Regions from separate parts of the Homo sapiens genome. Here region 1 is linked to region 2. A link means that fine-mapping ties the variant in region 2 to the expression of a gene that starts in the linked region. Tissue or cell type: testis. Region 2 holds a variant in brackets; the other region holds the start of a gene. All regions are shown on one strand. Distances are between the middles of the regions.

Region 1 (2,756 bases), 72 kb before region 2:
TTCTATTTATATAAAATTCTAGAAAATACACACTAAGCTGTCATGATGGAAAGCATATCAGTGGCTAGTTTGGGGAGTAGGGAGAGGTGGGCCAGAGGGATTACAAAGGAGCATTAGGAAACTTTCGGGGATGATGGAGATGTTTATTATCTTGATTATGGTGGTAGTTTTGAATGTATACTTGTGTCAAAGCTTATCAAATAATGTACTACAATTATGTACAGTTTATTTCAGTTATACATGAATAAAGCTGTTTTACTATTAAAATGTAATTTTGAGGTAGTTTAATAGCATTTAGTGAAGAGAACGAGGGATAGGAAGACAAAAAAGATTATTATAAGGTTTCTGGAATGAGATAATTTCTGTGAAGATATTTAAAGCCCTGGCAATGGATGAGACCACCAAGAGTAGGAATGGAAGAAGGTCTAGGACTGAGTGTGGAGGACAGCTGATATTTACAGGCTGTGTGGAGAAGGAGCAGAGGTCTTACTTCTTTGTGGGGTGTGCCATTGTTGATTTATCTCTTATTGAGAGAGATCATGTTTATTGCTAATATTTTTCATTTCTGAGCTGCAACGAATAACCTTATACATTTTGGAAGTGTGTGTACATGTAATCTGTAAGATAAATTTTTAGATGTAGAATTTTCTGGATCAGAGGGTAGGAGTAGTTGTGATTTTGGTAAATAATGCTAAATTCCTCTTCATAGAAGTTGTACCTATTACATTCCCATCAGCAATATGAAAATGCCTCTTTCCCCACAACCTCATCAGCACAGAAGATTATCAAATTTTTGACCTTTCCTAATTTCACAAGTGAAAATTGGTAGCTCAGTATTATTTTAATTTGCATTCTTTAGCTATGAGTGAGATTAAACATGTTTTATTGGTTAAGAGTCATTGGGAGGATTGTTGTACCTTTAAAAAAATTGAGTTATTGATTTTTTTTAACACGTTATACATGCTTTCTTTATATAAGGAAAAGTAGCCCTTTGCTTCCAATATATCTTGCATATATATTTTCCCAGTTTGCTGTTTGTCTTTGAAATTTGTTTATGGTAGCTTCGGCCTTGTAGAAATGGTTGATTTTCGTATTGTCAAATTTATAAATCTTTTTGTTTATGGTTCTTGAGTTTTGTGTCATAGAGAGGTTTTTCCAACTCTCGAAGAATTCTCTCGAGATTTCTTAGAACTGATTTATAATTTCATTATTTACTCTGAAATCTTTGATTCAATTGTATATTTTCCTGGTGCAAGTGGGAGGGGTTAAGACAATTTTAGTTTTATTTTTAGATGGCTACCTGGTTTCCCAAAATCATTTATAAAATAACTGTCTTCTCACCATTGACTGGAAGATTTCACCTTTATCTTTGTTAAGTAAAAGAGAAGGCTTTATAAATGAGGGTTTTAGAATATATTTGAATGCTGACACTTAATCCCAGTGCAACACTGTTGGGAGTTGCGGCCTTTGGGGTATTTAGGTCATAAGGGCTCCACCTTCATGAATGGATTAATGTTGTTATAAAAGCCCTTTATGAAGGAGTTTGGTCCTCTGTCCCTTCTGTCTTCTGCCATGTGAGGACACAGTGTTTCTCTTCTTTGGATGACACAGTGTTCAAAATGCCATTGTGGAAGCCAAGAGCAGCCCTCACCAGATGCTGGTGCCTTGATCTTGGACTTCTCAGCCTTCAGAATGGTAAGAAATAGATTTCTGTTCTTTATAAGTTCTGTTCTTTATAGGTCTGTGCTATTATACTAGCACAAAATGGACTAAGACAATGAACATGTATGCAGATATGTTTAAATTTCATGGTGGAAAGAAAGATGACTTCTATTTTCCTGTTGTAGTAGAGGGTGTTGATGGATACAAGGCAGCAAAGTCCATTTCTGCTATAACAAAACACCATAGACTGATGGCGTAAACAATCAATATTTGTTGCTCACAGTTCAGAAGGCTGGAAGTGCAAGATCAAGCTGTCAGCAGATTTGGTGTCTGGTGAGAACCTGCTTCCTTGTTCATAGACAGCTGTCTGCTTCCTGTGTCTTCACCTGGCAGGAGGGTTAAGGGAACTCGCGGGAGCCTCTTTCATAAGGGCATGAATCTCATTCTTGAGGGCTCCACACTTACGACCTAATCACCCCCTAAAGTCCCCATCTCTTAATTCTATCACCCGGGGGGTCAGGATCTCAGCATTCAAATTTAAGTTGGGGGACACGAACATTCAGATCATGGCATAAACCAACCGTTCTAATTGCATTATTTTCTCTAGAAATGATCGGCTGCCTCTGTGTGGGCAAAGAAAAGGCCTATCTACCTTGGAAACAAAGCTTTGGAAAACTCATTGCTGGTCTAAAGAAACAGACAATTGAGGCCAGGCGCTGTGGCTCATGCCTATGCTCCCAGCACTTTGGGGAGCCGAGGTGAGAGGATCTCTTGAGCCCAGGAGTTCAAGACCAGCTTGGGTAACATAGTGAGACCCCACGTCTACCAAAAAAACATTAATAAATTAGCCAGGCATGGTGGCTTGTGTCTGTGGTCACAGCTACTCAGGAGGCTGAGGTGGGAGGACTGCTTGAGCCTGGGAGGTCGAGGATACTGTGAACCATGATCGCACCACTGTGCTCCACCCTAGTCAACAGAGCAAAGCCCCATTTAAAAAAAAAAAAGGAAAAAGAAAAGAAAAAGAAAAAATGAAATACACAATTGGACAGTAAAAGAGCCTCTAAAGGGGAAGCAAACAAGAGGTTAATAGGGCA
Region 2 (2,500 bases):
ACGCATGCTGTATTATGTCTACTTTTGAGAAGTGAAGATTTTCTTTAATTTTTGTAAATCTTACTCATGGCATTTGAAAAAAGATGTGGTATGAGATACGTAATATACGCATACAACCAAGCTTATTAACCATGCCTTTAATTCCCCCATGGCCTTTCCCATCCTTTGATTATATGGCCTGTCAGTTACTGAGTAACATGCAAGGTACTCTGTTAAGTGGTTTACCTCCATTAATCCCCACACGGGCTTACAACAGCCTACTTATTCCCCTCTGGGATACATGTGGGAAACTGAGGCACTGAGAATAAGTCACTTGTCCAGGTTAAAAGCCTAGTAAATAGTACCAGGGATTTATGCATTTAGTTCTCACATCAAAGCCATGTATTACCCATCACACTAAACTCTTTTCATGTTACATTTCATGGTACAAAAAGGACCACAGCTTTCACATCATCTTGGAAGAATATATAAAACTGCTTTCTCTATCCCATTTAATAATTTCTACCTCACATTTTGCCTGATATTGCTTTGCCATTCCTGCTATCATTCCAAAAGGTCACTATGCAGCTCTTGTCGGCATCTGTCCTTGTTCTACGTACATCTTATGCAAACTGTGTTGCTATTTTATATTATCTGTTTCAGCTGTTTAATAGGATAGAGTTTAGTCTATTCAAATTTGTTTTCATTTTATTTTCACCACTTTATGTTCTATGGGCTATTGTTTCATCACTCCCCTGGCCCCACACCCAATTTTGTGGCACTGAAATGTATTTGTGGTTCATTTTGCCACCCTTTCGCCAGCAAGTTTAAAAGTAATAAATCCTGTTTCTATACTATTAATAGTTTTCCTTAAAGAGGTAGTTTTGAAATTATAACTCTCTAAGTGTCAAGCACTAATGAGTATCTACCATTCATCTCCTTCCATATCCCCTTACAAGGTGCTATGGTCTGAATGT[C/T]TGTGTTCCCTTAAATTCATACACTGACGCCTAATGCCCATTGTGACAGTATTAGAAAGTAGGGCCTTTGGGAGGCAATTGGGAGGACCTCCTTTGGGAGGTCATGAAGGCCCTACCCTCATAACTGGTATTACGAAGAGACATCTGAAGAGCTAGTTAGCTCCTTCCACCATGTAAGAACACAGCAAGAAGGCACCATGTATGAACCAGAGAGCAAAAGCTCTCACCACACACCGAAACTGCCGGTGACTTGATCGTGAACTTCCCAGCCTCCAGAACTGTGAGCAATACATTCCTGTTGTTTATAAGCCACCCACTGTAAGGTATTTTTGTTACAGCAGCCCAAACAAACCAAGACACTAGATAAGACTTCTGGCATACTTTTAGCCCTAACTTGATCCATTCAGTTTTGTTAGAATCACCTGAAATTTAAAGAATAATTTGGCTGAGAAGATAATTCTGTGGTTGTTAATTCTTTACCTCTCGAGATTCTGAAAACTTCTTTCCATCTAGCATTTAATGTTGCAAATGAAAAGTAATATCAGTTGATTTTCCCCCCTTTTCATGTCTCCTAATTTTTTCTCCTGTCCGGACAGTTAATTTTCTCTTTGAGATTAATAAATGCCTACATTTGAGTTAAATATTTGTCTCATCCTTAAGGAAGACTTATTAAGGAAAAATTCTATTATTTCTTTGATTATTGTATATCTTTCCTATATAAACTATTCTCCTCTTCTAAATTATTACACAAACATTGAATTTTCCAGAGCTTTCCATGCTTCAGGATTTCCATAATTTCCATTTCTTCACCATCCTGCTGGGATTAATCTTCATTTGGTCTTTTAAATCACTACCTTGGATATTCAACATCTGCTCTACTGGTGAGAATACTCACCATTAAATAAGCACAATCTATAATACTTGTTTTATGGATGTGACTGAACCTCTCTAGAATTTGTCTGAGGCCACTAATTAGAATTCCTTTAAGAACTCTTTCCAAAGCTGAGCATGGTGGTTTGTGTCTGTAATTCCAGCTACCTGGAAGGCTGAGGCAGCAGGAGGACGATCATTTCAGCCCAGGAGTTCGAGACCAGCCTGAGCAACATAGTGAGACCCTGTCTCTAAAAAAGGTTTAAAAGTATTTTTTAAAAAATAGTAATTCTTTCCAGTTGCTTTTTTTTTTCAAGAGATGGGATCTGGCAATGTTGTCGGGGCTGCACTAGAATTCCTGGATTCAAGCAATCCTCCTGCCTCAGCCTCCTGAGGAGCAGAGATTATAGATTTGCGCTGGGCCCAGCTTACTTCCTTGAAGTAACTAAGTTTGACTTTACAGAGTATGCCCTTGCAAGACCAGTAGGCCCTTCTCTTTAAGGCTGTTAATTGTTCTCAATTTTCTGTTGCCTTCCAAGCATCTATTCTTATTTATAAGCAAAGGCTTAGACTGGTAGCTTACATGGAATCTCTCTTAGATGGATTTGGTCTCCCCAGTAGGTAGGCATGAGGGCAATGTGGGCCCACAGAGTTCTGTGGGTGACCTTTGGTCT

The links. PIP is the estimated chance that this variant, and not a neighbour inherited with it, causes the effect.
Region 1: GCLC-AS1 starts here. The variant in region 2 is fine-mapped to the expression of GCLC-AS1 in testis (GTEx, PIP above 0.99).

What each region holds. Positions count from the first base shown.
Region 1 is chr6:53,429,945-53,432,700 of GRCh38, forward strand. GCLC-AS1 (GCLC antisense RNA 1) reads left to right here and starts at 1,550. Exons shown (of 5, transcript NR_183318.1): 1 at 1,550-1,695.
Region 2 is chr6:53,502,093-53,504,592 of GRCh38, forward strand. All of the region lies in intron 12 of GCLC (glutamate-cysteine ligase catalytic subunit), which reads right to left. All of the region lies in intron 3 of GCLC-AS1 (GCLC antisense RNA 1), which reads left to right. Among named protein-coding and RNA genes, the nearest start is that of GCLC, 42 kb to the right of the region's middle. The variant C/T (reference allele first, on the strand shown) is at 957.